Regions from separate parts of the Homo sapiens genome. Here regions 1 and 3 are each linked to region 2. The links come from fine-mapping of genetic effects on gene expression. A gene starts in region 2. Each other region holds a variant in brackets. All regions are shown on one strand. Distances are between the middles of the regions. Region 1 has its middle 5.6 kb from the start of ZP2. Region 2 holds the start of CRYM (crystallin mu). Region 3 holds the start of LOC105371123 (a long non-coding RNA gene).

Region 1 (10,797 bases), 61 kb before region 2:
TATTCTGCCAGCTGCCCTGTGGGCCAGGCATGAAATCAGAGTTTGCTGAAATCAGCTCCAGGTGAGTGAATTGGTGTTTTCCCTATAACTATGGGGGAAATTAGGATCTTTTGGGCAAATTATTTACAACTGCAATGTAGAGCCAAAGAGAATCATGGGCTTTATTGAGAAAAAAACAAGTCTTGTTCACACCACTACATTTTTTTTTTTTTTTTGAGATTCAGTTTCACTCTGTCACCCAGGCTGGAGTGCACTGGTGCAATCTCGGCTCACTGCAACCTCTGCCTCCTGGGTTCAAGCAATTCTCCTGCCTCAGCCTCCTGAGTAGCTGGGATTACAGGTGCACGCCACCACACCTGGCTAATTTTTGTATTTTGAGTAAAGATTGGGTTTCACCGTGTTGGTCAGGGTGGTCTCGAACTCCTGACCTAGGTGATCCACGTGCCTCGGCCTCCCAAAGTGCTGGGATTACAGGCGTGAGCCATTGCACCTACCCTAAAACCTTTTAAGTAACATCTAGTCTTCTGGCTACTGCAGAAGTTACCCTGATAATGCACAGGAAGTGTCTTTAAAAAAATGAATGAAGCCTTGTTGACCCCCAAGTGTAAAAGCTTAAGCTTACCGCAAAGATACAATTTCAGAAGGATACAGAGAAAAGGCAAAAGTCACTCATAATAGTGCCACTGCTAATATTTAGGTGAGTAACTTTAGACATGTTTCTACAAACACCACACACAATTTTTTTAAAACACTGGGAGGAAAGTTTAAATACTGTTTTGTAATCTGCTACTGTCACTTTATAACTATTAAACATAAAGCTCTCTGTTACCATTTTAGGGTGGCATAATATTCAATTTGAGATAAATCTGTGTTTATATAATTTCCTTAATTATGAGCATAAGGTGGCTTGTAATTTTTCATCATTATAAGCAGTAACATGATGAGCATTCTGATACATATCCTTGGGTAACCCTCAAGATAAATTCCTCAAAGTAAAACTTCTGGGTAAAAGGGAGTAGTGATCTAATAAGAATGTTATATTGTTGTAAAGCACTTGGAAGTTTCCCAGTGGGGAAACTGAGGCAAGGCAACTTGCCCCAACAATGTCAGGGACCAGGTGGAGAACTCAGATTTCCTGAGGCCTGATGGTTGTGTTTTTTCAACATCTCTCACACTCTTTGAGATAACTAGATGTCTGCAGCCCATGTTCCAAAATAGGTGGATATAAGGCTTAGACTCCATTCAAGTGGTGGGTGACACTTGCAATTATTAGGCTGGTGCAAAAGTGATTGCAGTTTTTGCCGCTACTTTTATGTATGTATGTATGTATTTGAGATGGAGTCTTGCTCTGTTGCCCAGGTGGGAGTGCAGTGGCGCAATCTTGGCTCACTGCAACCTCTGCCTCCTGGATTCAAGCGATTCTCCTGCCTCAGCCTCCCGGGTAGCTGGGATTACAGGCGCCCACCACCAAGCCCAGCTAATTTTTGTATTTTTGGTAGAGACAGGGTTTCACCATGTTGGCCAGGCTGGTCTCGAACTCCTGGCCTCAAGTGATCCAACCGTGTCAGCCTCCCAAAGTGCTGGGATTACAGGCGTGAGCCACTGTGCCCGGCCCTTTGCCACTAATTTTAATGGCAAAAACTGCAATTATTTTTGCATCATCCTAAACTGTATTGATTCATGTGTTGCCTTTGAGGTGTAACCTGAGGCATCTGAAATAACATTGGAGATTAACTGTTTCCCTGACTTCCTTGATCAAAAGGATCACATGGAGCTCTCATTAATATCACAGATTCCAGGGTCCCACCCAAAAGCTGCTGAATTAGACTCTCCAGAAGATGTGCCTGGGAAATATTTACTTAACGAGCACCACAGGTGATTCTTATAATCAGGAAAACCTGGAAAATACTTGGAGGGAGCGAGGCGAGAAAATCTGTGGTGGCCAGTGGTTAACCTCCTTACGGGAATTGAGTAGATTACATCCCAGCGGAATTGGGAAGAAGGAGCAAAATACAGATAAGTTTTTGGGGATAGAGATGGTAAAAGGATTTCATTTTATAGCCAAAGCATGATAGCAATAGTTTCTCCTTCTATGCATATTTTTCTGAAAAGTGGCACCTTTTCTACAAATATAATTTATTGCCACAATGGTTAAGACTATGATAAGACATTAGAGGAAAAAGGAGCATAGACGTGAGACTCAGAGCCCTATTGAGAAGGTGGTCAGAGAAGTGATGGGTTAATGTGCTTATTCAGCCTCCCTCAGACCCCACCTCCCTTCCCACCGCGCTACTCACTCCCCTCGAGATGGTGTCTTTCTCCAGAGCGGGAAGTTTTTGCCTTGGAAAGGGCAGCTTTGGTCAGAGCCCCCAAATTTGGGGTTTCTAAAAGGTTAAGGGGCAGCACAGAGACCCCAAGCAGGAGATGTGGTGAGAAAGCCCGCTGTGGGCTGGTGAAGCTGGTATGTGCACCAGAGATTAATTTTGTTTGTCTCACCTAACCCAGACCTGTGGTGTGCTGGGGACAGCCACCGAACAAATGGCTCTGGGCCCAGGAGCATCCATGTCTAGGATTCTGCTCCGGAAAAGCAGGAAGCTACCATCTGTTCAGCAACTGACTTTGAACACAGGAAGAAATAGCTGCTCCGTAAAACAGTGTCTCCTATCAGGAGGTAGGAAAAACTAAAGTTATTACAAAAATGATTCTTAACATTCTGTTCTCACTTATAAGTGGGAGCTGAACAATGAGAACACATGGACACAGGGAGGGGAACATCACACACTGGGTCCTGGTGACAGGGGTTGGGGGGTGGGGGCAGGGAGAGCATCAAGATAAATAGCTAATGCATGCGGGGCTCAATACCTAGGTGATGGGTTGATAGGTGCAGCAAACCACCATGGCACACGTTTACCTATGTAACAAAGCTGCATGTCCTGTACATGTATCCTGGAAATTAAAATTAAATTTAAAAAAATATTGCGCTAAATAGGCCCGGTGCAGTGGCTCACGCCTGTAATCCCAGCACTTTGGGAGGCTGAGGCGGGTGGATCACCAGAGGTCAGGAGTTTGAGACCAGCCTAGCCAACATGGTGAAACCCTGTCTCTACCAAAAATATTAGCTGGGCATGGCGGCACACACCTGTAAATCCTGCTACTCGGGAGGCTGAGGCAGGAGAATCGCTTGAACCCAGGAGGCAGAGGTTGCAGTGAGCCAAGATTGTGCCACTGCACTCCAGCCTGGGCAACAAGAGTGAAACTCTGTCTCAAAAAAAAAAAAAAAAAAAAGGCAGTAAACAAACAGCAGACCTCGTTCAAATATATGTGTTCCACACTCTTTTCAATGAACCTCTTAAAGTTTGCTGATTTATTATTACAAGGTGTTCCTTCTCCTCTTCTCTGCCCTGGGTTCTATGTATCATGAAACCATTTCTCTCTTGCTAATCACAAGGCATTTCTTGACGGGGTTCTCATACATAAAAGAAAGACTATAGTTTTGTTGTTGCCTCATTTGGGCAGATGTCTTCCTTTCTGAAGTGTGGTTCTTATAAATGACAGTTTATAATTCTTAAATTCTGAATCTGCTGCCCTTGTTTTCCACAACAATTATAAAAGTATTTATAAAAGACAACCTAAATATCACCATCTAGAGATGGTTGGATAAACTATGGAATACTCTTCAGCTACTGCAAATGATTCTATGAGTTCGTTCAGATCTGTGAGTACTGACATGAAAGATGTCTGCAATAAAACTGGAATTTCAGGGCTATATATCTACTATGCTTTCATGTTTTGCTTTAATAGGAAAATGAAAAACCTGTCGACCTAAAGGAAGGAGAAGAGAATATAGTTTTAAAGAGTTTACTTGAGGCAAAGTGTGGACAGCTGCCCAGGAAACACTTCCAAGTTGCCTTGGTGAGTTCTCCACTTTTGTCACAAGTGGGTGTTTTTTTTGTTTTGTTTTTTGTTTTTTTTAGACAGAGTCTTGCTCTGTCGCCCAGACTGGAGTGCAGTCGCACGATCTCAGCTCACTGCAAGCTCCGCCTCCCAGGTTCACGCTATTCTCCTGCCTCAGCCTCCCGAGTAGCTGGGACTACAGGCGCCCACCACCACGCCCAGCTAATTTTTTGTATTTTTAGTAGAGATGGGGTTTCACCGTGTTAGCCAGGATGGTCTTGATCTCCTGAACTCATGATCCACCTGCCTCAGCCTCCCAAAGTGCTGGGATTACAGGCGCCCACCACCATTCCTGGCTAATTTTTTGTATTTTTAGTAGAGACGGGGTTTCACCATGTTAGCCAGAATGGTCTCCTAACCTCGTGATCCGCCCACCTTGGCCTCCCAAAGTGCTGGGATTAGTGGCTGATACAGTGTTTCTTGACTCATTGATTTACAGAAATAACACTGATTAGCTGGGTACAGTGGCTCACACCTGTAGTCACAGTGACTCAGGAGGCTGAGGTGGGAGGATAGCTTGAGCCCAGGACTTTTAAGGCAGTCTGGGCAGCATAGCAAGATCCCATCTCAAAAAAAAAAAAAAAACACTGATTAGTGATTGGCTATACATTGTTGAACTATAGGGTATGATTAATGGCGTCCAGCATATGGTATGAGTTATGATGTCCAGTGTATGGCATAGTTAGGTTAATTTTATGGCTACTTGGTGTCAGTCTAGAGCCCACATATCAAGTAGCTCCAAGAGATAATTACTGAGCCCGAGGGAGTGAGGTGTGACTGCTGTCACGTTTCAATGCCTCTCTGGGCCTGATAATTTAAAGGGACTTGCATTCTTCAGATAAAAAGTTTCTTTTCTTTCTCAAACTTATGTGTATATTTATACTTTATGTGTCTGCATGTGGGTCTATACATATGTATTTGGATTACAAGTCAAGAAAGTTGTCCCAGAGAATCGACAGCATCATCCAGGAAAGGAGAGGGTTGCCAGGGTCCGGGGAGTCCACGTGGCTGTGCTGGGCATTTGCGACCATTGTCTATTCTGACTTGTTCGTGCTTTTGCTGTATGGGTTTTAAATACATTGAATATCATCACCGGGAATAGGATTAAGGAGATGGGAGGGTTGGAGCACAGAAAACAATTCCCCAAATGTGCCTGGGCATGCCAAGTGCTTTGGAAAATTAAAAGGCTTCAGAAATAAGCCTCAGAATCAAGGTCTCTCTATCCTTGCCTTGTTCCCTTTCCACCCCCAAAGTACAGGAAGGAACTCTCTCTGGGGAAAAAAAAAAGAAAGCTCCTTCTTTTTTTTTTTTTTTTTTTTGGCAGGGCTTTGGTCTTGTTGCGCAGGCTGGAGTGCAATGGCATGATCTGGGCTCACTGCAACCTCCACCTCCCAGGTTCAAGTGATTCTCCTGCCTCAGCCTCTCAAGTAGCTGGGATTACAGGTGCACGCCAGCAACCATGGCTAATTATTTTTTTTTTCTTGTATTTTTAGTAGAGACAGGGTTTCACCATGACGGTCAGGCTGGTCTCAAACTCCTGACCTCAAATGATCCACCTGCCTTGGCCTCCCAAAGTGCTGAGATTACAGGCATGAGCCACTGGGCCCAGCCAAGGCAGCTTCTTAACAGAAGAAACACTATTGCCTTCTATCCCCTCCCTGAAATCTCATTATCTATAGCAGGAAAGGAGACTAAGGAATGTAACCACACATGGACAGACTTTTCCACAAGATAATGTCAGCCTCTGAAGCTCAGTCAAATTCCAAAGATAATTATGTACAAGTTAATTTCTCTCTCCCTGGTCTGTTCATTCTCCCTGATAATCATTATTGCCCCTCAAGAGAATTGTCTACAGTCCCCATCTCCTCCCTCCCCTATGAAAAACTGTATATACAGCCAGGCACGGTGGCTCACACCTGTAATCCCAGCACTTTGGGAAGCCGAGGCAGGTGGATCACCTGAGGTCAGGAGTTTGAGACCAGCCTGGCCAACATGGCGAAACCCTGTCTCTACTAAAAATATAAAAAATTAGCCAGGCATGGTGGTGTGTGCCTGTAATCCCAGCTACGCAGGAGTCTGAGGCAGGAGAATCGCTTGAACCCGGCGGGCAGAGGCTGTAGTGAGCCGAGATTGCACCACTACACTCCAGCCTGGGCAACAGAGCAAGACTCCATCTCAAAAAAAAAAAAAAAAGAAAACCCACCGTATATATGCATCTGTGCCCCACTGAGGGTTTAGGGGCAATTACTCTGTGATTCCCACCTTCCCCTGCACATTAATAATTTTGTATGAATTTTTCTCTTATTCATCTGCCTTTGGTCAGTTTATTTTCAGTGAACTTTCAGAGTGCAAAGGTGGGAGTTTTCTTCCTTCAGCCCTTAAAGAATAAGTAACTCCTGCCTTTCTGACTTTGAGGGAGAAGAAAAGGAAAAATCATTTGGGATAAACAGGCTGCACCTGCACACAGATAAGCAACTTTGTCTAATTAGCGAGCTCCTAGGAAAAAGTTTCCTCCCCTTTTCAGACATATCCATGGTGGGAACTTACACAGGGAGGAGGGGGGCTTACCTAAAACAAACCCGCAGTTATCAAAACAAGAGACGCAGGCTTTGTGCTTGCCTAGATACATGCCCACAGTTGCGTAAGATACCGGGAGTTGCACAGACAGCTTTACTGATGAGAAGTTACTCAAACTGCTAGAGATGAGAGAGGAGTTTCTTAAAAAAGCTTTTGAATTCAGCTGTAACCTGGCAATCCACTTGGACTCCCCTCTCTGCTGCAGAGAATTTTTTTCTTTCACTTATTACTATTCTTTTTTGAGACGGAGTTTCGCTCTTGTTGCCCAGGCTGGAGTGCAATGGTGTGATCTCGGGTCACTGCAAACTCTGCCTCCTGGATTCAAGAGATTCTCCTGCCTCAGCCTCCCAAGTAACTGGGATTACAGGCATGCCCCACCACACTCGGCTAATTTTGTATTTTTAGTAGAGATGGGGTTTCATCATATTGGCCAGACTGGTCTCAAATTCCTGACCTCAGGTGATCCACCCACCTCGGCCTCTCAAACTGGTGGGATTAGAGGTGTGAGCCACCACACCTGGCCTCTTTCCCTCATTAAACTTTCACTCCAACCCACCTTTGTGTCCATGTTCCTTAATTTTCTAGGAGGTAGGACAAAGAACCCAGGGTACTAGTTCAGACAATGAGAAAGTCTACATTAAGGTGCATTGGTGAGGTTCCAACAACTTTATTCCCTCTGTTTTGGTTGAATTGTTTTAGTGATAAAATAACCAATTAAATAATTATAGACTGGGCATGGTGGCTCACGCCTATAATCCCAGCACTTTGGGAGGCTGAGGCTAGAAGATAACTTGAGGCCAGGAATTCAAAACCACCTTCGACAGCATGGCAGGACCCTGTCTCTTAAAAATTTATTTAGTTAGTTAGTTTTAGTTTTTTGAGACAGAGTCTCACTCTGTCACCCATGCTGGAGTCCAGTGGTACCATCTGTGCTCCCTGCAACCTCTGCCTCCCAGGTTCAAGCTATTCTTATGACTCAGCCTCCCCAGCAGCTGGGACTACAGGCGTGTGCCACCACACCTGGCTACTTTTTGTATTTTTAGTAGAGATGGGGTTTCATCATGTTGGCCAGGCTGGTCCTGAACTCTTGACCTCAGGTGATCCATCCGCCTTGGCCTCCCAAAGTGCTGGGATTACAAGTGTGAGCCACCGTGCCTGGACAAAAAAAAATTTTTTTTAATAATAATTTTGACTGATTTCTGAGTGAGCTACCTAAGTTACAGAGTCTAAGGCTCAAGGATGAAAACTCAGTAGTATAAAGGTAAAAAGGCGAAATGAATGGATCCGGAACTTGAGGCTTTGAAACAAAGTCCAACTCCCTATGGTAAAATGAAGATATTAAGAGGTTTAATATCTAAAGAGGTTTAGTGACTTGCTCCAGGTCATTTACCAAGTTAGTAGCAGATAGAGCTCCAGTGAGAAACCAGGTCTCCTGATGCCTCTCCCTGCCCTTTCTAATTCATTTC[A/G]ATTTTCTCTCTCTCGCTGTGTGTGTGTGTCTGTGCATGCGGGGGTGTTTTAAAACTCTGTGCTTCTCTTGCAGTTCACTTGTCTTTTAAAAGTACAAGATGACATTAATTAGAATTTTAGCAGTATAAGATAAATAATATAAAAACTTCTCCCAGTTATGCTAATGCAGCTCAAAATAGCTTTCAAATATCAAATATGAATTTAACTTGGAAAAATAAGATAGACTATGTCAATGAGAATGTTCTCGAACATCATATGGTAGTTCCTTTACCAATCTAATATACAATGTTAATGTTGTTTTCCCCTTGGGTCCTTTAGACAGATCCAAGTTGAATGAGCCTTCTGACAGTAATAAATTCAGAAAGAACTAGGATGAAAGCTTTATCGATCTATAAATATAAAGGTAGGGCGGCATCAATATATGGAAGACAGAAGGCCCAGAAGTCTTTTTTTTTTTTGAGATGGAGTCTTGCTCTGTCGCCCAGGCTGGAGTGCAATGGCGTGATCTCGGCTCATGGCAACCTCCGTCTTCCAGGTTCAAGAGATTCTCCGGTCTCAGCCTCCTGAGTATCTGGGATTATAGGCATGTGCCACCACGCCCAGCTAATTTTTGTACTTTTAGTAGAGATGGGGTTTCACCATGTTGGCCAGGCTGGTCTCGAACTCCTGACCTCAAGTGATCTGCCCCCTCCAGCCTCCCAAAGTGCTGGGATTATAGGCATGAGCCACCACACCTTGCCTTTTTGTCTTTTTTAACTGTTGTTGCTTTAACGTCTGTTTTGACTGATACAAGAATAGCTATTCCTGCTCACTTTTGATGTCCGTTTGCATGGAATGTCCTTTTTCACCCCTTTACTTTAAGTTTATGTGAGTCCTTACATGTTAGATGAGTCTCTTGAAGACAGCAGATACTTGGTTGCTGAATTCTTATTCATTCTGCCATTCTATATCTTTTAAGTAGAGCATTTAGTCCATTTACATTCAGTGTTAGTATTGAGAAGTGAAGTACTATTCTATTCGTTGTGTTAGTTTTTGCCTGAATACCTTGTGTTTTTTTTTTCATTGTGTTTTTGTTTTATAAGTCCTGTGAGACAATGCCTTAAGGAGGTTCTATTTTGGTATATTTTGAAGATTTGTTTCAAGATTTTGAGCTACTTTTAGCAGTTCTTGTAGTGCTGGCTTGGTAGTGGCAAATTCTCTCAGCATTTGTTTGAAAAAAAACTGTGTTTTTCCTTCATTTATGAAGCATAGTTTCACTGGATACCAAATTCTTGGCTGATAATTATTTTGTTTAAGAAGGCTAAAGACAGGACCCCAATCCCTTCTAGCCTGTAGGGTTTCTGCTGAGAAATCTGCTGTTAATCTGATAGTTTTTCCTTTATAGGTTACCTGATGCTTTTGCCTCACAGCTCTTAAGATTCTTTCCTTCATCTTGAATTTGATCATTATGTGCCTACATGATAATCTTTTTACGGTGAATTTCCTGGGTGTTCTTTGAGCTTCTTGTATTTGGATGTCTAGATCTTTAACAAGGCCAAGGAAGTTTTCCTCAATTATTCCCTCAAATATCTTTTTCAAACTTTTAGATTTCTCTTCTTCCTCAGGAATGCCAATTATTCTTAGGTTTGGTCATTTAACATACTCCCAAACTTCTTGGAGACTTTGTTCATTTTTAAAATCCGTTTTTCTTTGTCTTTGTTGGATTGGGTTAACTCAAAAGCCTTGTCTTCGAGCTCTGCAGTTTTCTTCTACTTGTTTGATTCTTGTTGGAGAATACCTGGATACTCATTTGGTTGTCTTTATCCTAGATGGGTATGTGGGTTTGCCTATGCTGAGGTTGTTTCAAGAACCAAGAGAAGTCAATATTGTAAGAGATTAGTGGTATGTGTATGTGTATGTTTATGCATGCATATAGATACATATATATGTTTTTCTAGAGTAGCTTGCATATAAAGGGGCAGTGATATAGCAAGAAATAAGCTGCTGTTTTTAACTATGGCAGGACTCTGCTTGTTCAGAGAGTGTGTAAGATGCCCACACAGCAATGACACTATGGGATGAAGGGGTGCCCTGCCCCTCCAAACCTGTGGGTGTTTTCTTGTCGGGTGGGATGAGAGACTAAGAAAAGAAAGAGACACAGAGACAAAGTATAGAGAAAGAAAAGTGGGCCCAGGGGATCGTCGCTCAGCATACGGAGGACCATGCCGGCACCAGTCTCTGAGTTCCCTTAGTATTTATTGATCATTATCTCTACCATCTCGGAAAGGGGGATGTGGCAGGACAATAGGGTAATAGTGGGGAGAGGTTCAGCAGGAAAACATGTGAACAAATGTCTCTGTGTCATAAACAAAGTTAGAAAAGGTGCTGTGCCTTGATGTGCACATACAGAAACATATCTGGTGCATTAAAGAGCAGTATTACCGCCAGCATGTCTCACCTCCAGCCTTAAGGCAGTTTTCTCCTATCTCAGTAGATGGAACATACAATCCGGTTTTACACTGAGACATTCTATTGCCCAGGGACGAGCAGGAGACAGGTGCCTTTCTCTTATCTCAACTGCAAAGAGGCCTTCCTCTTTTACTAATCCTTCTCAGCACAGACCCTTTACGGGTGTTGGGCTGGGGGACAGTCAGGTCTTTCCCTTCCCGCGAGGCCATATTTCAGACTATCACATGGGGAGAAAACTTGGACAATACCTGGCTTTCCTAGGCAGAGGTCCCTGCGGCCTTCCGCAGTGTTTTGTGTCCCTGGGTACTTGAGATTAGGGAGTGGTGATGACTTTTAACAAGCATACTGCCT
Region 2 (10,797 bases):
AGCCATACTGGCTTCCTTGCAGCTTCCCAAGCTCATGTACTTCCTTCAACCACAGGGCCTTTGCATGAATTAATTCCTTGCCATACGATGCTAGGCTGCTTTGTCCCCTCTCCCCCTCACAAGTAACTGATTATCCTTCAATCTCAGCTCAAATATCCCCTACAGAGACACAGCCACAGGCTAGATCAAGACATACTGCTTTACACTCTTACAGCACTTGTCAGCGTTGTAGTTTCATATTTATTGGTGTGAATTTTTTTTTTTTTTTTGGAGACTGAGTCTCACTCGTTGTCCAGGCTGGAGTGCAGTGGTGTGATCTTGGCTCACTGTAACCTCCGCCTCCAGGATTCAAGCAATTCCCTTGCCTCAGCCTCCCAAGTAGCTGGGATTACAGGCACCTGCCACCATGCCCAGCTAATTTTTTTTTTTTTTTTTTTTTTTTTTTTTTTAGTACAGATGGGGTTTTTCCATGTTGGTCAGGCTGGTCTTGAACTCCTGACCTCAGGTAATCTGCCTGCCTCAGCCTCCCAAAGTGCTGGGATTGCAGGCGTGAGCCACTGCGCCCAGCCTATTGATGTGATCTTTGGACTATATCTTGCCTCCCCCACTGGACCCTGTACTACATGAGGGCAAGTACTGTATCTGGTTTTGCTTACCCCATGCTGAGCGCAGAACCTTGCATTTGGTGGACACTCAAATATTTGTTGAATAAATGTATGTTAGTGCTAAACCCTAATATATACTATCACCTTGAGAAAACATATCAGAGGCTTCAATGAAGCTTATGTGAGACCCAAGCACAAAAAATGTATTATGTTCATCAGACCCTAGAGCTCCGTATACTTATTCTCCCCAACAAGAGCCCTAAATAGAAGAGAAATGATGGACAAGAAAATATTCTACTCTCAAGGCAACAAGTAAAATAGACCCTTTGTTCCTTATTGAAACAGTTCATCTGAGCCCCTGGAAATAAAGCTGTGAAGTTTCAGCCTAAACTTTGAAGTGTCTAAACTTTGAAGTGTCAACCCAAGGCTTCTTGATTCTTCTGGGAGCACAGATTTTTATTAATGCAACAAAGCAGTGTTATTGCAGGCTGGGTCTACAAAAGTGTGGTTTCCAGACCTGGTTGATCCTCACTCTGTGATTTTGATTCAGTAGGCATGGGAATTTGAGTTTTTAAAAACTTCCCTAGCTAATGCTGCTGCATAGCTTGCTTCTGTTGGAAACTTCTTATCTGGGACAAGACCATGTGGCCTCAAAAGGACCCGCAGGAACCTGGTTGTATGACTTCAGGAAACCCAAGTTTCTATTCTTTTATGCGTAAAATGAGGCCATTAATACTTTCTCTGCCTTCCTCACAGAAACTCGTAGTCCAGACAAGGGGCTGGAAATGAGTTTGAAAAAGACTAAAGCTCTTTGCAAATGACAGTAATACAAGATTCATTCTGTTCCCAAATTACCAGCAAACATAGCAAGGAGTCCTTGATTACTTCAGTTGAGTCAGGTCTGGATATAACTAAAAACCAGTTCATTGAGGTGGGTGCTGTTGGTCTACTCCCTTCGCATACAATTACCAGATTAATCCTCCCATTCTTCCCTCCCCAGCAGGTATCTAGAAAACCTCGACATGCAACCTGAACACCTGGTCTTTGCTGCTGCAACTTTCCCTGGGTTACCACGTTTCCTTTATAATAACTTAGGAAAACCAGTGTCCCAAGACCTTGTACTTCCACATTTAATGTGAAAGACTCCAGACTCCAATCGTTCCCACAGACACCCTGTTTCCTAAGCCTCATCCTCTTAACTCTAACTTTTAAAAATGCTGTTTTTCTTATAGGATGCCTTGACATTGCTTGGGAACATCATCACCCCCATTGCTTACTGTTCCCTCTGCCTGGAGTGCCCCTCCGTGTTTTTGCATGGTTCGCTAACTCACTGCTTTCAGCTTTGACTCAAATGTCACCTTCTCAGGGAGGCCTTTCTTGGATAATGTAAAATGTGACAGCTTCTCCAATACTCTCACTTCTGCTTTATCTTCACCTAACATGTTATGTGGCTTTTTGGATTATTGTTGGTTTTATTTTTTAGCAAATTCTAAGCACGCTATTAATCATTTATTAATATGTACTAATTATTTAATTACATATTATTTATTACTATTTAACACATTATTAAACTCAACAGATGTTTTTGTTTGTTTTGTTTTGTTTCCTTTTTGTTTTGTTTTTTAAGACACTCACTCTTTTGCCCAGGCTAGAGTGCAGTGGCTCGATCTGGGCTCATTGCAACCTCTGCCTCCTGAGTTCAAACGTTTCTCCTGCCTCACTCTCCCGGGTAGCTGAGATTATAGGCGCCCACCACCACGACCAGCTAATTTTTGTGTTTTTACAAGAGACGAGGTTTCACCATGTTGACCAGGCTGGTCTCCAACTCCTGAGCTCAAGTGATACGCCTGCCTCAGCCTCCCAAAATGTTGGGATTACAGGCGTGAGCCACTGTACCCAGCCTGTGTTTTCCTTTTTATTGGTATTGTCTACCTCCCCTGTGTGTGCCCCTCTGTTTTTCTCACTGCCATTTCCCTAACATTTAGAACAGTGCCTGACACATGATAGAAGCCCAGTCAATACTTGTCGAATGAATACAGGGATCTGGCTTGGATATGTTCAGTTCACTCAGCCTCTTGTGTAGTACTAGCTTTGGTCTATGGGACAATTATACTGTCTTACCAGGGGCAATGTGGTACAGGGACAAGAAGCCAGTCCTGGAAGCCAGAGAGGTCAAGTATTAAATTCTTACTCTAGCACTTATTAGCTGTGTGATCCTGGGCAATTCACAGAAGCTCTCTGAGCCATATTCCTTGACCTGGAAGGTGGAGAGAATTTCTCATTTCGATTCTTCAAGACTGATGGGAAGATTGAGAATTATGCACATAAGGTACTTGAAATCTGGTCATGCACACTAATTGGTAGCTAATAATTTCGTGAATTACTGATATATCTGACATCTGGAGTTCCAGCTATGTCCAACAGGAAACCAAAATAAGTTCCCCACTTCTCCTTTAGTCTCTCAAGATTGAGACACCAGACCCCACTTGACAGCTCACCTTAATGGTACAGCCAGCCATTCATCTTACCTTGGTGGCAATGGCAGAAACTGCAGCTGTTCTCTTTGCAGTTATGACATTTCCATCCATGACCTTGGAGGAAAAGAGAGACAGTGAGCAAGGGGAACCCCTGTCCACTGCATAAATTAGAAGAAACAGTTCTAAAATATTAGCTTAGGAAGTTTTATAGCATCCTACAAACAGCATGGGTTTGGCGTCAGACCTGGATCCGATTCCTCCACTTACGAGATATGCAACTTTGAACAAACACTTTAATCTTTAAGCACTGGTTTCCTCACCTGTAAAAAAGATAATGCCAGCCATTCAGAGGGTTATTGTGAGGATTAAATGCACTGGCATATCTGGAAACATCTAGCACATGGTGAGCCCTCAAGAACTGCCCATTTTCTTTTCTTGCCCTAGGATTCTCAAAACACCAAATTAAGAAGGAACTAGAGAGAGAAGGTTGCCAATTGACATCTGGACAACGGCCATGAAACTCTTAGTGGCTCTCCGTTCCTGCTGCACATGTGGAAAGCTTCGTGAAGATGCTCAGATACCACCCTTAGATTAACCCAGTCTGTATCTCTTCCAGGAGTGAGACCCAGACAGCCCAGGTGATTCCGATACACAGCGAAGGTTGAAAATTATGCCTCGCTAGTAAAAACCATCCTCTGCACTCCTCTCCCTGTTATTCATCTCAGCTGATCATCAAAAAATAGGCATCATCAACCTCATTTTACAGATGAGGAAGTGAATCACGAAGTCACTGAGCAGATTCAGCTGTCATCTAGTTTCAAAGCCTTGGGTTCTACCCCCCTAGGGAACCGCTGTTGGCAGGTAGTATGAATGCCATCTCGGTTGGATGAGTGTAAGTTGGGGAAAGCTAGATATTCTCAAAGGAGTGTTAAACGGCCAGATTATTTGGCGATCCAGAAATTCAGGGGAAAAGGAGGGACATTGTAAGACCCAGCTTGGAGCGCACAGACCTTAAGAGTTAACTGTCACACCTGGGAGTGATTCTTGAGTCTTTCACTAACCAGATGTGTGACCTCAAGCAAAGTGACTCTACTAACCTGAGCCTCAAGGACCTCAACAGAAATTGGGGGGAAGGGGAGTTAATAAAAACACCCATAGAGGAATTTTGCAGAATTGAATGTGATCAGCGTCTCCTTCTTGGCACATAAGTGCCCAATATGTAGCAGTTAAAATGGCGGTGGTCTTAGAAGAGTCTGGACCTATGGACCGTGGACTTAGACTGAGCAGCTCTGAAGTCCAACCATGCTAATTGTTGGTTACATAAACCTCGGTAAGTTGAACATAGTTGCTCTGACTCGGTTTCCTCATCTATAAAGTGGGAGTAATCATATTACCCATATCATAGAATAGTTTTAAGTATTAAGAGGATTAATAAATGTGAAATGTTTAGAAAAGTGCCTGATGCATTATAAAAAGTACTCCATAAACACAAGCTACTGCTACCTTTTGAAACTATGATTAGATATTAAAACAGGTCACACCGTATACCCCTCTGAAGACTCCCAGGGATTATAGAACACCCCTTCTTTTCCATGTCGACAAGGATTCAGTAAGTAAGTCTTCCCTTGGCTAATGGGTTCATTCAAGCTGCGTATTTGGGGCAACTGAGTATAGGACAAGGACATATGCAAGAATGACAACAAGATTATTATTTCCACACTGTCACATGCTTGAGGCAGCAGTGGGCGCTGGTGCCGTGTTATGCATCCTCAGGCAGTCCTAGAAATAGATACATGGACACAGATAACCTTCACTGTTGCTGGTATCCAGTCACTTGCAGAGGGGCACGCGTAGTCACAATCAAGACTCCCCCTGCTGCGGAGAACTTACTTTTGAGCTTCAATCTGGGCCCAGGGGCCCCATTCCACCCCGGGACAGGAAGTTGCTCACCGCCAGCAGGGTGCCATTGCTGGGCTCAAAGAGTAGCACAGTAGCCTGGTGGGAAGGGACGACCGAGGTGATGCCGCGGTCCTCGTAGAAGGTGACCAACTTGGTGGTCAGTGCATCCTCTGCAGCACTGTAGGCGGGCATGACCCCCAGGTAGCTACAAGGAGAGAGGGAGCAGCTTCAGCCCCTTCCCATCAATGCTGGGGTCTCTTAGAAAGTATCCATATACTTTCCTTTTTCTTTCCTTCCTCACCACCCCACTGGCCCTCTTCCAGCCCCCGCATCCCTCTGCCCTTCCCTTAGACACTATGCACAGTATGTTCAGAAGTCTGGCTCTGGATCAGAAAACCTTTCCAGCTCTGCCACTTAGTAGCTGTGTAAGCTTAGGTAAGTCACTTAACCTCTCTGAGTCTCAGTTTTCCACCAATCAAATGGTGGTATCAATACCTCCCTAGGTGGAGAGTGTGCTGAAATAAACAAGGTAACACCTGTAAAACGCCCACTTAGCACACCGGGTAGCGCCTATTAAAAGTGGCAGCTGTTAGCAACGGTTAGGCAAGCCGTCTCTTCCCTTCTCCCACCCCTCCTCTTCCTGCTCCTCCTTTCCCCGCTTTCCAGTTTCTCCTGCCCCTGACCCCGACCCTCCTCACTCACCCCCTGTGCTTGGTCACCGGCACCACGGTGCGCACGGGCTGCATGACCCCTCCTTCGGGACCGCTGGAGAAGTTGGCCAGGGCCGTCTCTAGAGGCGGGATGAGGAGGCTGGAGCTGCGGAGGTGTTCCTCCACCTCGGCCGCGCTCAGGAACGCTGGTACCCGGCTCATCTCGCCACCTGTGCCTTCTAACCTCAGTCTCCGCACCGCGATCCACGTACCCTCGGCTGTGCCCTTTATGAGCGCGCCCGCTGCTCTGTGGAGCCGCCTGCTGGTCACAGCCCAGCCTCCGGGGGCGGAGCAACCCCGCCCCGCCCCGCCAGCCCTCTCCTCCCCCTTCGCCCACCTCGACCCCTAAGGGTGGGCGAGATGGGTCCCTTCCAGCAACGGATTCCCCAAGATGGACATCGCGGTGGCGTGCTGGGAGTCAATATTGTTTGGTCCACTTTCTCAGTTCCTGTAATCAGCTGTAGCCACATTCCTTGACTTTTGCTTCCTACATAACCCCTCCCTATTAACTCGCTTTTTGCTGCTGTCTAGGTCACCGTGCCTGGGAAAGAATGGACAGGGAAAACGCTAACGGGGCTCCTTTATTTATTAAATTACTGCCTACTGCTAGGAGATAAAAGGAGACGGAGGCTTATTTAATTTTTTTTTCCTTTTAATTCTGTCCCCGTCTAGAGTCTCTTATCCTAGTCTTCCTCCCCCCTGTACCCCCAGATGTCTGGCCTTTGATTGCTAAGAACGCACAGTTTTCTCACAGGCTAACTAACCTAACAAACCTTCGCCTTTAAAGGGGGGAAGTTTGCAGGGCAAGGTGTAATCTTTTCCATCTCACAAAAAGCCAAATTGCAGGATCTTTTCTTCCAGGAGTTTTTACCTGAGATGGGGAAATAAAATCGGAAAGGAATGATGTAAAGCTTAAGGCAATAAATCCTAGTCATCAAATCAGTGATAGGAAAAGTAAGTTAATTCAAAGAAAAGAGAGATGATTTTGACCTGGAGTGGTTAGATAAGGGCTTCATGAAAGAGTGGGGAGAAACCAAGGTCTGAAATAATAATAGTGACGACAACAATGATAACATCAGGTTATTGATCTTTACTATGTACCAGATACTGCACCATGCACTTTATGTATATTATCTCATTTAATTATACAACAACCTCTAAGGTAGGGAGGTGTTGTTATTAGTTTTACTGTCCATTGGAGGCTCTGAGAAGGGAAGAAATTTAGTTCAAGGTCATCCACCAAGTCAGCAGAGGAGCTGGCTTTGCCCATGGTTGGACTTCAGAATTATATTCCTAATCATTAAGCTACTTTGGCAGAAAGAGAGGAAGAGGGCATTACAGGCCAAGTAAAGCCCTGAGGTGGAAGGCATGTTGAATAGCTCTGGGAACAGTGAGTTGCCAGATGTGTTAGGCTGGAATAAGGTGCTGAGGTCTAGGAGCATCAGAAGATAAAACTGAGAACGATTCTTGGAGTCAGGCAGCTGAGAATGGTGATTCCTAGGAAAGAAATTACATGCTCCAAGAGAGTAAGCATTTAGAAAGATGGGTCTTCTGCCAATGCAAAGGATGGAACAGATGAGCGAGAGCAGAGCCTGGGAGAAGGTCAAGAGGCAGGACTGCTGAAGTTGTGCTTTGTGGTATTTTGGTTGGAAGCTACATAGGGCATTTTGTAGGAAATGGTCACATCATGATAAAAGACAGTGGATGAGTAAGTGTCAAAATCAGTACCAATGAAATGAGAAATTGTACATAATGTGTTTAGCAACAGTGCTTGGCACAGAGTAGCCATGTAATAAGTGAACACTGAGAGAGAAAGAGAGAGAGAGAGAAGACACTGGTGGTTGGGAAAAGCTGATTTCAATGACACAATTTTGTTTCTTCGGTTCACCATCCCTAGAAATTTATGCCCAGAGCCGCTGGGCTTATAGAAATGTTTCTGGCCCATCACGTGTGCTGTTAGCATTAATATTACATCACATTTATTGGGTTTAGAAAGCACAGACATATAGCCCTGGCATGATAGTTCACGCCTGTAATCCTAGCACTTTGGGAGGCCCAAGTGGGTGGATTACCTGAGGTGAGGAGTTCGAGACCAGCCTGGCCAACATGGTAAAATCTTCTCTCTACTAAAAATACAAAAATTAGCTGGGTGTGGTGGCGGGTGCCTGTAATCCCAGCTACCCAGGAGGCTGAGGCAGGAGAATTGCTGGAACCCGGGAGATGGAGGCTGCAATGAGCCAAGATTGCACCACTGCACTCCAGCCTGTGTGACACAGTAAGACTTTTTTGGCCCTTTGTTTTTGTGAATGTGAACTAAAAATAAAATCCTATGCCCCCCACCTACTGAATGAACCCCCTCTGGGCCAAGCAGACCCCAGAAAAACCTTAAAGACTTAGTTTCCAGCCATGATGGGATGGCAAATCAGATATGCCTCATTACATCCTCTCCCTTTTAGAGTTTAGACACAACTGAGCAGCCTTAATGTTAATACAGAGATCACAAGACTGACAGAACAGACTCTTTGTGGCAATACGATAACAAATTATAAACAGGATCTAAGGCCATGCCAGGAAGGGTTAAGTCACGCACCCTTACACTTAAAGAAAAAAGCTATGTTCTAACTGCCACAGAGTTTTTGTTTTCTCCAGCAGCTAAACAAGCACTGGCTTGAAGATAAGCAATATTTTTGTTTTTGTTTTCCCCAGCCCTGCTCAGAGAAGATAGGGAACATGGCTTGGGCACAGTGGCTCACACCTGTAATCCCAGCACTTTGGGAGGCCAAGGCGGGCGGATCATGTGAGGTCAGGAGTTTGAGACCAGCCTGGCCAACGTGATGAAACCCCATCTCTACAAAAAGTACAAAAATTAGCCAGGTGTGGTAGCATGTGCCTGTAATCCCAGCTACTCAGGAGGCTGAGGCAGGAGAATTGCTTGAACCAGGGAGGTGGAGGTTGCAGTGAGCCGAGATCGTGCCACTGCACTCCAGCCTGGACAACAGAGTGATTCTCTCTCTCTCTCACTCTCTCTCTCTCTCTCTCTCTCTCTGTATATATATATATACACAAACATATATGTATATACATATATACGTATCTATGTATCTATATAGATATGTATATGTATCTATGTATCTATATAGATATGTATATATGTGCATATATATATATATAAATTTTTTTTTTGAAACAAAGTCCCTCTCTGTCACCCAGACTGGAGTGCAGTGGCATGATCTCAAGTGATTCTCCTGCCTCAGCCTCTCAGGTAGCTGGGATTACAGGTGCATGCCACCACCCCCGGCTAATTTTTGTACTTTCAGTAGAGATGGGGTTTTGTCATGTTGGCCAGGCTGGTCTCGGTCTCGAACTCCTGACCTGAGATGATCCACCCGCCTTGGCCTCCCAAAGTGCTGGGATTACAGGCATGAGCCACCGTGCCCGGCTGAAGATATGCAATATTAAAACAATTACAACTCATCCAAATCACAGATATTGACTAACCGACCCCTTGTTCCACCAGCCATAACTACAGCTTGATTGGACAAGAGACTGATTTCAGTAACTTTCTCCTGATAAGACTACCGACTATAGGATGGTTCTGGCTGACTTACAGAGGTTGCACACTTGCATGCCTTCATGTCCTGAAAAGACCTTTTGACGTATCAGGCTGAATTGTAATACATTTAAATGCTGCAACCACCCCAAAATGAACATGAGTTGTATGTAACATGCATGTTTGTTAAATACACATGCATCAGGACCACTTTCATGAATATTCATAGCTTCTTCTCTCACCTGTTGAATATGTATATTTAGCCAACCTGTTGAGCATAAAGCTCCTACCCCAACCCTCCTCCTTCAAAGTGCCTGTCTCTGATCTTGGCCAAGGCATGTGATATGGTTTGGCTCCATGTCCACACCCAAATCTCTTCTTATAGCTCCCATAATTCCCACATCTTGTGGGAGGGACCCAGTGGGAGATGACTGAATCATGGAGGCGGGTCTTTCCCCTGCGGTTCTGATGATAGTGAATGAGTCTCACGAGATCTGATGGTTTTAAAAATGGGAGTTGCCCTGCACAAGCTCTCTCTTTGCTATTGCCCTCCATGTAAGATGTGACTTGTTCCTCCTTGCCTTCCACTATGATTGTGAGGCCTCCCCAGCCATGTGGAACTGTAAATCCAATAAGCCTCTTTCTTCTGTAAATTGCCCAGTCTCAGGCATGTGTTTATAGACAGCATGAAAACGGAATAATACAGCGTGCTTCCCAGCATAGGATCCCACCTTGCAGGCTGTAACCTCGTATAAGAAAGTCTCTTCTTGTCTAAATTTATAAATTGTGTGGTTTTTTTTTTAAAGTTAACAAGGAGAAAAAAAGCAAAACCAAATACTCATCAACTAAAAGAGATATGAAATAAGAAAGCCAGATATTTATTTGCTTCCATAGTAAATTCAGGAATTTAGCCCCGATTAAATAGAAATCTTATTTCTGACTCCCACATTACTAGAAAGTTTATTAATCTTCTTTAAGTCATGATTATAATAGTAATTTCATTATTTTAACAATGACAAAATAAGAAACCTCAATAATAGGAATTCACTCCAGTGAATCCTGTAGAAACAGGACAACTCTGCAAATCATCTCAAATCATCTTCCTGATAAAGCTTTGGTTCACATCACCCAGGTCCTCAGTAAAGTAGCACTGAGAAAACTAGTCTTGGTTGCATCACTTCTTTTGAGACCAGAGGCACAGAGAACTAATTGTCCCAAGCCTCCAATAATAAGTATTATTAATAAGTAGCATATTAAATATTAGGTGTTATTGAGGTTTATTTTATTATTATTAAAATAATGAAATTATTATTATAATTATGACTTAACAGAAAGAAGATTAATAAACTTTTTAGTAATGCAGGGGTCAGTATTGAGAAAGCTGGTGTAAATCTCTTTTCCCCGCCCTTCCCTGAGACCTTGTCCTGGGACAAGCCTGGGGGCCATGTAAGCTCCTGTGCCTGAGCCTCTGGAAGTTCCCTGCTAACCCCTAACAGACCCTGCGGAGGAGGTGGTTACTTACATCCCCCTAGACTTCTGCCACTACCACAGTGAAG
Region 3 (10,797 bases), 49 kb before region 2:
ATCCCCAAGAGAACAGCCTTTTTAATGCTTGAGAATTGGCCAGACATGCTGGAAATGGGGACTAGAAGAGCTTTCACACAGGCGCATAATATGTATTTGGTGACTGATTGGCACAGAAGGAAATGAGGGAGGGTTAGGATGTAACTGATGTGAGAGGAAATGATAGGACATTGTCACACTCAAAAGGCCATTCGACATGGTTACTGGAGCAAGGCAAATACTGTACATGAGTGAAGTCGGTTGGGTGCAAGGAAATGGCTTTAGTGTGATGAGAATGGCAAGTGACTAACTATTGCCCTCAGGGTCAGGATTACAGCTCTGGGCAGCTGGGGGTGATGTGGACTGTTGAGTCCAGGCTGCATCTAAAGAAATAACTGCTTTGGCTGGGCACAGCGGCTCACACCTGTAATCCCAGCACTTTGGGAGGCCAAGGTGGGTGGATCCCCTGAGGTTGGGAGTTCGAGACTAACCTGACCAACCCGGAGAAACCTCCTGTCTACTAAAAATACAAAAAAATTAGCCGGGCATGGTGGCGCATGCCTGTAATCCCAGGTACTCTGGAGGCTGAGGCAGGAGAATCACTTGAACCCAGGAGGCGGAGGTTGCAGTGAGCTGAGATCGCGCCATTGCACTCCAGCCTGGGCAACAAGAGCAAAACTGCATCTTAAAAAAAAAGAAAAAAGAAAAAAAAGAACTGCTTCCCAGCTCAGGCAGAGGTAATTGTCATGATCTTCAGTTTCTCATCTGGAAGCTGAAAATCCAGATTCCATTCAATTTCCTCAATTTTAATGTTGATATTTAATGTTAAAGATATTTTCAAAATCCTGTGCCTGCCAAACAAGACATATCTCTGGCCATATTTATTCCCATCCACCAGCAGCCTGTAACTTCCAAAACCATGGAGAGACCATGCATATAGTGGCTGAGCTGCTGCTCACCCTGTGGGCGTGGGGCAGGAGGCGAACCTGCAGCTCCTCCCACTCCGTCCAGATCTCCCCCTTCAGCTTCTCTGAATCCTAGGCCAGGTGCGTTTGCAGCTTTGTCTATGGTGAAAGGTGGCAGCTTATCCTGTAGACACCTGTGTCGTCGAGGTTGGGGGTGGTGAGAGACAGGCGTGGGTTTCGTTTTATTCTCTGGGGTTCCAATTTGTCTCTGCAGATTCTAATTTGTTCTTTTTCTTTACTTCCTCTCCATCTTTACTTCCCAATTGCTGGCCCTACGGACTTTGGGTCTAACATCTGGTGCAGAAGAAATAGCCTTACTAGACAGCTTACCTGGCTTCCAGGTATAAGCTTAATCTCTGCAATAAACCCTTTATTCTATATCACTCAGAATGGTTCTGCTTCTCTGATGAAACCTGACTGATACAGAATTTGGTTGCTACCTCCTTATATGAGAGGCAAGGAACCTGGATTGCAGATAGGGACAATAACTCTAGGTCCTACAGTTACTTAGTGACAGTCCTGGGAATTGAATCCAGGGTTCCCCTCATCTCTGCTTTTTACTTTTTCCCCTGTGTTTAAAGAAGTTGATTCTCACCTTTGTATAATCTTTTTTTATTTTTTTGCGACAGAGTTTCACTCTTGTTGCCCAGGCTGGAGTACAGTGGCACAACCTTGGCTCACTGCAACCTCTGTCTCCTGGGTTCAAGTGATTCTCCTGCCTCAGCCTCCAAGTAGCTAGGACTGCAGGTGCGTGCCACCACACCCAGCTAATTTTTGTATGTTTAGTAGAGATGGGGTTTCACCATGTTGGCCAGGCTGGTCTTGACCCCCTGACCTCAGGTGATACATCCACCTCGGCCTCTCAAAGAGCTGGGATTACAGGTGTGAGCCACCATGCCTGGCCACCTTTGTATAATCTTTAAAGCATCTTTTCCATAAAATGTCCCCCACCATTCAAATAACAGCTGAGTCCTGCTAAGTCTCCTTTGATCATAGCTCTGTAAGCCACTCCTTCCTCATTTGGTCCTCTGCAGGTTTTGTAAGCCACATGTACATCGTTCACGTTTCATCCAGAGTTCTGGGAAAGAGTAGGTGGTTCCCAGAAACAATGTGAGTTCATGAGTCTTTCTAAGAAGAAGGGAAGAAAGTTTTTGTCAAGGCCACAATGTATAGACCTTGTGCTAAGCACTGATTTATAAATAATCCAGATAGGAGTAAGAAAATGAAATGAAGTCTCCTTGAGGTGAATTTTCCTCCAGTTGATAGTAGTAGAAAGCTATTATGGGCTGAAAATATATCTCCCCCACCATTCATGTTGAGGTCCTAATTCCCAGCACCTCAGAATGTTACTGTATTTGGAGATAGCCTTTGATACGGTTTGGCTCTGTGTCCCCATCCAAATCTCATCTCAAATTGTAATTCTCACGTGCTGAGGGAGGGAGGTGATTGAATCATGGAGGTGATTTCCCCCATGCTGTTCTAGTGATAGTGAGTTTGTTCCTATGAGATTTGATGGTTTTATAAGTGTTTGGAAGTTCCTCCTTCATTCTCTCTCCTACCACTGTGTGTGGAAGATGCTTGCTTCCCCTTTGCCTTTGCCAGGATTGGGTTTCCTGAAGCCTCCCCAGCCATGTTGGAACTGTGAGTCAATTAAACCTCTTTCCTTGATAAATTACCCAGTCTCGGGTATTTCATTATAGCCGTGTGAAAACAGACTAATACAGCTTTTACAGAGGTGATGATGTTAAATGAAGTTATTAGGGTGTGCTCTAATCAATATGACCATCTTATAAGGACCAAGTGTCCTTATAAGAAGAGAAAATTTGGACACAGACATGTGAAGAGGAAGATGACATGAAGACACAAGGAGAAAATGGCCATTTGCAAGTCTTTTTCCAGGAGAGAGGCCTGGAACAGGTCCTTTCCTCACAGCCCTCAAAAGGAACCAACCACGCTCACACCTTGATTTCAGATTTCTGGCTTTCAGAACTGTAAGAA[A/G]ATAAATTTGTTTAAGCCACTCAGTCTGTGGTACTTTGTTATGGAAGTCCTAGTAAACTATTACAAAACCCCAGATTGAAATTCAATTCTGTGTGACTGTAAAATATATATTATTTTTATTATACCATGATAAGGGGTAGGACAAAAAAAAAAAAACAAAACTAGGTCTCGGCTGTTGTTATTGAGAAGGAAAATGCAGAGAAAAGAGAAGTTTTAAGAAAATGCTGCATTTATATAGATTGACTTAAAGAAAGGAGAAACTTTCTTTCTCCTAGTGCTAGTACTACTATTAATTTACTTTAATTAAGTGCTGACTACACACCATAAACTGTACTTAGTATTTTACAAATATTCAGTAATTACTTGCAACAACCCTGTGAATGATTCTCTTTTAAAGAGAAAAGTACTGTCTTTATTTTACTGATGAAGAAACTAAAGCTTAGGGAGAAGTAATTTGCCCAACTTAATGGGAAGATCCAATCTGGGGCTTAATATCTGTCAGTCTCTGACTTCAGACCCCATGTTCTCAATCATTATTCTACTCTGGCTTTATTTCAACACAATGCTTGGAGTTTACATTTGCTTGTCTTTCCAATCCAACCATCAGCTTTGTAAGAGTTGAACGGTTTTGATGGTATTTGATGATCTGCTAATGGATGCTATAACACACCTCCCTTGTGGTAAATTCTACCATCTTTGAAACAAAATGGCACCTAACATAGGTTTTTCCAATGATTGTCGTTCCTGCAGTTTTTCTAGAACTTGAGTTATAGAGGGGACCTGTTGGTAGAAGAATTACATGGATTGAAATTTTCAAGTCACAGAACCAATAATTAGGAAGAAGGAAAGACATAAGAAAAAAGGGAAATTTGTTCAGCTAACAAAGCCAGTTTAATCAAGTGTAGAATTTAAATTCCTAGCCCCTGCTTAGACTATCCAGTATTCAAATTTGAAAGAATTTGTTTTTGGAAGCCTTTATAAAACTCTTCACTGTTACAATGTATGCCATCTGGGATTTAGCATTTATAAAATGTGCAGTTAAGAGATGCCAAGAGATTCCTCATGCAAACCAGATGGTACAATAACAGCTCTGTCTTTAGTTTTCTGCCAGAAAAATAGGCCTTTGAATGGCTTGAAACTTATATGAATAAATTAAGCTCAACCAATACTTCAGGGACATTACAATTTCAATAGGCAACTTATCCACTTAAATATTTTTATAAATGTTTTCATTTAGAAAAGAAGAAACAAAAAGGCAGACAATGATTCTTTTTGATTGTTAAAGAATACAAACATGATACAATGCTTTTAAGGAAAACATCAATGACTTTCAATGTGGGAAAGAAAGTTTCTCCTTATTTTGACAGTGTTATATGTGTTTGTTTATTTATTTTTTGAGACGGAGTTTTGCTCTTGTCGCCCAGGCTGGAGTGCAATGGCACAATCTCGGCTTGCTGCAACCTCTGCCTCCCAGGTTCAAGTGATTCTTCTGCCTCAGCCTCCCAAGTAGCTGGGACTACAGGCATATGCCACCACGCCCAGCTAATTTTTGTATTTTTAGTAGACACGGGGTTTCACCATGTTGGCCAGGCTAGTCGATGAATGTGTTTAAGTTAGAAGTGAAGTTGTTGAAATTTCTTCCGAATAGGAGAAATCCATATCAAATAGGTTGAACAGTTGTATCATTGTGCTAAAGAGAAAAGAATACACATGTAAGTGACATTTTCTGGATAATATATTTGAGCACATCTTTACCTTAACAGATAGTCTCTCATAAACCCAAGGGCAGTGCATACAGCAGTGTGTTACTGATGGCTTCTTTTGTCCTTGCCTGGTTCCTGCAAGTTTTCTATGGAACAACAGGACTTTTGTATTACTCTCTAATTTCCCTTACTTTGTTACTGTTTTTATTTTCATTAAAATTCATAATAAGATCCTCATTAGATGAAGTAATCTTGTTAAAAGCAGTGTTCTACTCTGATCTTTTTCCTTCTTATGTAAAAAAAAAAAATGTGCTTCCCTACCATACAAGTGAATTTCTTCTCTAATTAGACATGAATAGCTTTAGAGATCAAACACAGGCTGCTTTTGAAAACCAGATCTCTTAGGACACAGGGGCAATCTCATTACTGAAAATATGTGTTTCTGGGTTGCACAAGCCATTGAATTTCTTTCCCAATTAGCAGCAAATGGTTTTTCAGAACAATGAGGAAGAAGTTTGGTTTGTACTTTGCAAGTGTTGTTTTTTTCTTGGAGTTAGACTGGAAGTATCAACTACCATCATCTCTGTCCCTTCTTTTCCTCTCCCTGAGCAAAGGAACACACATGACTCTGTTTTATAGATAGTCAGAGTTCCAGGTAAATTCTTCATCCAAATGCTACTTCCTCTGGGCCAGGATTGGACTCCATGGTAGAAGGAACACCTATTTAAGACTACCTAGTTGTCAGCTACTGTCAGCTGTTATGATGTTAGGGGAGACTGCAAAATCATAAACACAGCAATGAGAAGCTGACAATGTCCTTGCTCTGGGGGGAGGAGGGGAACCATTCATGAGAGAATCTCTCCAAGTGCTGCCCCTAGAAGCAGATTAACCATGTTTTCTCTGGGTCTTTGGCAAAAAAGAAGTGGTGTCTGTGGAGAAGGGCTTCTTATCATTAAATAACCAACTGCTTGGGGTTCCAGATAATAGGTTGAGGTTCTAGAGTTTTAGGACAGTGCAGGAGGAAATAAGACCTGCCTGTCTAAACCTAAGTGTCAGTCAGAGTCAAGGGAACACAGAGGTCATGGACAGGATGTTTCTCTAAGTTGAGACATACTAGTAGTGCAGGAGTATGGGGAGATATGAGGAGCATGGCGAGGCTCCAACAGGAAGGTTGATGAGAGCTTTGACTTGGGGTCACTGCCACTCAGGTCCGAGCCTCAAAGTCTCTCCAGTGTGTGTCTGGCAAATATTCTTCTCTGGCCTTCCAAGAGTCCAGCTGTATGCTGATGGAACACGCTCAAATACTAATTTCCACAAGATCAGTACAGTCAAGAAAATCCACAACTGCCCCCACAATTACCATGACTCCTCACAAGGAATTAATGTCTACATTATATGCAAATTCGTGTTAGCTCTTTTTATTAATTTCTGCCCTTACCATCTCCCACCAATTTTGTTTCCTTTGGGCTTTGAGGAATTCAAAAATGATTACTGGGCTAAAACTTCCTCTGTCTGTTCCCTAAGCCACAATCACACTACTTCTAGTTTGTAAAAACATGCTTTATGGGTTGCAAGAAATTTTATTTCTTCATCTTTACTAAAGTTAGTTGATGCTGATGATAATGATGATATGATCACTAGCAACATCCCCCAGTTTTATCCACAAGGATATGGAGACTCAAATAGATGGAGTAACTTTTCCTGGATTATATGAACGCTAGGTCTTCAACCCTCCTTCCCAACCTCACCTTGAAGGGATAGGATAAGGAGGATCTTCAAGTTCAGAAAAATGTTTTAAATCCTTATCTCTGCCCCCACTTCCCCACCCCCCGCTGCCCCTGCCACCCCATTCTTCTCCCAAGGAGGAAATTTTCCCAAGGGCGTGCCAGAGGATGCCAGGATATTTACCATTTAAGAAAGTTTGGTTATTTCGCCATTTCACAGGAGACTTTAAGTTCTAGTCCTAAGGACTGCTGGAACTGAGAAATTCTTTCTCTTTCTTGTCTTCTATCTCCAATCCTTCTTCCCCATCTCTATAATTATTCTGTCCTCTTTACCCTTTGCCTCCATCCTGTGAAACTTAATCACGCAAATTGCATCATTCTTGTTATACCCAACTAAATCAGGGTTGAGAGGCTGGGTGGTGGAGTTGGGGGAGAAAGCACTCCGAGTACAAAAAATAAATAAATAAATAAAAATTGCTCCAAGAACGTAATTCTCAGCAAGACTGACTGCTGGAACTGCCTGCTGTAACCCGGGAGCAGTTTTATTTACAGCTGCTGAGATAACTTGCTGCAACTCTAGGACAAATTTTGCCCACTAATCAGAGCTTGCCAGCTCCCCAAACCCTTACTAGTGCCAATGAACTTTCTTGAAGAGCAATATGTAACATTTCTCTTGTTAATAAAACCTCTAAACTTCTCTTTTCTTCTTCAGACATACTGAAGACCACCTGGTCTATGTGTGTATCCCAAATTGCAAGTCTTTTTCCAAATAAAACATTAAATTTAGAGATTCAGCTCTAAATTTTTATTTTGACTTTGACAATCCTCATCCTAATTTGGCTTATGACCATCCTAGTGGCCACTATTCTTCTCTTTCTCTTCCTCTTCCTCATCCTTATCTTCTGAAAGCAGACCCTTTGGCTGGAGTCTTAGGATTCTACTACAAATAATACATCTTTGAGAAGTTCTCTATCGGTTATATGTATTTTTATTTTTTATTTTTTTTGCACTCTGTCACCCAGGCTGGAGTGCAGTGGTGTGATCTTGGCTCACTGCAACCTCAGCCTCCCAGGCTCAATCAATTCTCCTGCCTCAGCCTCATGAGTAGCTGGGCTTACAGGTGTGCACCACCATGCCCAGATAATTTTTGTATTTTAGTAGAGATGGGGTTTTGCCATGTTGGCCAAGTGGGTCTTCAACTCCCGACCTCAAGTGATTCACCCACCTTTGCCTCCCAAAGTGCTAGGATTATAGGCGTGAGCCACCTCGCCTGACCTGTTTTTAAATTTCAAAGTGCATTAATGAATGCAGTTGTATCTAAATTAAAGTGGCTCATGCAAAACTTGATGAAGAACCTTACCATTTTCTCACAGTATTCATAATCATGTTTGGATATGTCACTCTCTCTGGGCTAAAAACAATGTTTAAAAAAAGCTAAATAATGCTGCCCTCCAGGCTGCTTCTACTGCTCTTCACCTAGAAGCCAGAAAAAGGAACAAACAGTGACCTTTGGAGCTCATTATTATTGTGAAGAAACTGTAGATGAAAGCTTTGTACTTTTTCTGAGTGGGTAAATAATTTATCTTGGAATAAAAACTTAGACAAAAAGAGATAAGAGGAATATACAGTTACAGGCTTCAAAAATAGATATTTCTCACATCAGTTTAGTGGACAATTATCTAAATATATTAAAGATTGTGTAACAATATGGGGATATATTTATGATGGATTAAGGAGTGGAAAAGATGTAATGTAAAATTATATGTATTTGATGAAAACAATGTAAAAAATACACCACAGGAGAACATATGCATAGTTGATGAGTTATGTAAGGATGGCGGTTTCTAATTTAGTTGCAGTGTCTTCAGAGAACACGGTTTGCATGAACCCTGTTATTTGTTATTTGTCGAGAACTGCACTGCTTCTATTCAGTGGTCAGGTTTTATAAATATTCTGTGTGCTTAGAAAAAACATGCATTTACTATTGGGCACAGGGTCCTTTCTCCATGTGACTGTTAGATCAAGCTTGTTAATTGTGTTCAAATCTGTTTTTCTTCTTTTTTTTTTTTTTTGAGATGGAGTCTCACTCTGTCACCAGGCTGGAGTGCAATGGTGCGATCTCAGCTCACTGCAACCTCCGCCTCCCGGGTTTAGGCGACTCTCCTGCCTCAGCCTCCCGAGTAGCTGGGACTACAGGCACATGCCACCATGCCCAGCTAATTTTTGTATTTTTAGTAGAGACGTGGTTTCACCATATTGGCCAGGATGGTCTCAATCTCTTGACCTCGTGATCTGCACCCCCTCAGCCTCTCAAAGTGCTAGGATTACAGGTGTGAGCCACTGTGCCCGGCCCAAATATTTTATAGCTATACCAATCTTTAGTCTGATATAGAACATTATGATGATGTCTGAAATCTTCCCTTATGATTGTGGTTTTGTTTTTTTTTTTCTGTTTAATTTTTGCTTTCCCTTTTTTGCAGCTGTGTTATTTAATTTATACAAGTTTAAAACGATCATAGTTTCTTGATTAATTGTTCCTTTCATTATCATGTATTATCTCTCTTTATGCCTAGTAAATTTTTTTGGCTTAAGCTATATTTTTCCTTGCTACCAATACGGGTGCTCTTCAACTTACAATGCAAAACCACCATAAGTTGATATAATAACTCAGTTGTGAGCTGAGAAGCATACTAAATACCTGTCATTTTTGTGCCATCATAAAGTTGAAAAATTAGGTCAAACTCTCATAAGTTGCAGACCATCTATGTGGGTACACCAATGTTTTGTTAGTATTTGCTTGCTATAACTTTTCCATTTTTTGCTTTCAATCTTTCTGCAATTTTATATTTTAGATATGTCTATTATAAACAAGACATGGCTGAGTCTTCCACATCATAAATTTAGTCCATTTTCTTTTGTTTTTATTACAGATCTGGAAATTTTTTGGTCTTATATTGTACTCCTTATAGTCATTTTTCTATACTTTTTCTCCTTCCCTTGAGTTATTGATAATATGTTTAAGTTATTGATTTGAGATCTTTTTTCTTTCTCATATATGCATAAAAAACTACAAATTTTGCCCTAAGCTTTTCTTTAACTGCATCCTATAAATCTTGATATGTGGTATTTTCATTTTCATTCTGTTCCAAATATGTCTGATATAGGACTTGTATCCAGAGTATATAAATAATTCTTATAATTTATTAATAAGACAACCACTTAAAAATTGGGCAAAAAGATTTGAATAGAAGATGTAAGAATGGCTAATGGGCACATGAAAAGATGCTCAATATCTTAGTCATTAGGAAATTGAAAATTAAAGCCATAATAAGACCACTTCATATCCACTAGGATGACCATAAACAAAAAGATAGGCAATAATAAGGCTGGCAAGGTTGTGGAGAAATTGAAACCCTCATACGTTATTGGTGGAAATGTGAAGTAGTACAGCCACTTTGGAAAACAGTCTGGCAACTTCTGAAATTTAAATGTAAATTGCCATGCAACCCAGCAGTTTCACTCCTTGATATATACGCAAGACACATGAAAATATGTGTCCACACAGAGACTTGTACATCAGTGCTCATAGCAGCATTATTCATCATTACTGAAAAATGGAAACAACCCAAATATTCATCATATTCATGAAACATTGAATGGATGAAGAACATGTGGTATGTTAGCACAGTGGAATATTATTCAGCAGTGAAAAGAAAGAAACCATTACATGCTACACATGACAAACCTCAAAAAAGTATGTGAATTGAAACAAGCTATACACTAAAGACTATATATTGTAGGATTCCATTTGTCTGAAATGCCCGTAAAAAACAAATCTATAGAGACAGAAAGCAGACTGTGGTTTCCTGAGGTTGGGAGTGGAAATGGGATTGACAGCAAATGGCATGAGGGATCTTTAAGGGCTGATGGAAACTGGATTATGATAATGGGCATGCAACTCTATAAATGTCCTAAAAATCATTGAATTGTATGCATGAAATGGGTAAATTTAATGATGTTATACCTCAATAAAGCTGTTCTTTTTGGAAAAAACAGCTAGTGAACTAGAGTAGCTCTGCATTTTATTAAGAAATTATTTCTTACATCCTGTGCCTAGATGGCCAATATTACACTCAAGAAACTAATGGACATAGAAAAATTGAATGTACCTCCAAACACTCAAGATGAATACAGCAGTCTTCAATAGTCAACGTCATGGCCATTCCAGAGAGAAAAGGTCCAAGTTCAGTGCCTCGAACCTTGTTGCCTTCCGTGAAAGGAAGCAGTTGAAATGAGCTTTGCCCCTGGTGACACTCTTCCTTGTCACTAATTAACCAGCTCTATAGGAAGGTTGCTCCGCCAACACCTTGCTCTGCCTGGAGAGACATCTGGCCAAGTTCTGGTGAGCAGGAAAAATGTCTACTCGTT

The links. PIP is the estimated chance that this variant, and not a neighbour inherited with it, causes the effect. A credible set is the group of variants that fine-mapping cannot tell apart.
Region 1: its variant is the best candidate, but not a certain one, in a credible set for the expression of CRYM in lung (TOPMed, PIP 0.76).
Region 3: its variant is the best candidate, but not a certain one, in a credible set for the expression of CRYM in spinal cord (GTEx, PIP 0.78).

Annotation. Positions count from the first base shown.
Region 1 is chr16:21,211,731-21,222,527 of GRCh38, forward strand. It overlaps a transcript of ZP2 not described here. Among named protein-coding and RNA genes, the nearest start is that of ZP2, 5.6 kb to the left of the region's middle. RefSeq lists an enhancer at 10,429-10,797. The variant A/G (reference allele first, on the strand shown) is at 7,998.
Region 2 is chr16:21,272,399-21,283,195 of GRCh38, forward strand. CRYM (crystallin mu) reads right to left here and starts at 5,892. Exons shown (of 8, transcript NM_001376256.1): 1 at 5,684-5,892; 2 at 5,033-5,186; 3 at 3,134-3,196. The coding sequence starts at 5,853. RefSeq lists an enhancer at 5,684-5,893.
Region 3 is chr16:21,222,954-21,233,750 of GRCh38, forward strand. It overlaps LOC105371123 (a long non-coding RNA gene), which reads right to left and starts at 10,649. Exons shown (of 2, transcript XR_001752344.2): 1 at 10,539-10,649; 2 at 3,811-4,632. It overlaps ANKS4B (ankyrin repeat and sterile alpha motif domain containing 4B), which reads left to right and starts at 10,746. Exons shown (of 2, transcript NM_145865.3): 1 at 10,746-10,797. The coding sequence starts at 10,785. RefSeq lists an enhancer at 1-256. The variant A/G (reference allele first, on the strand shown) is at 2,943.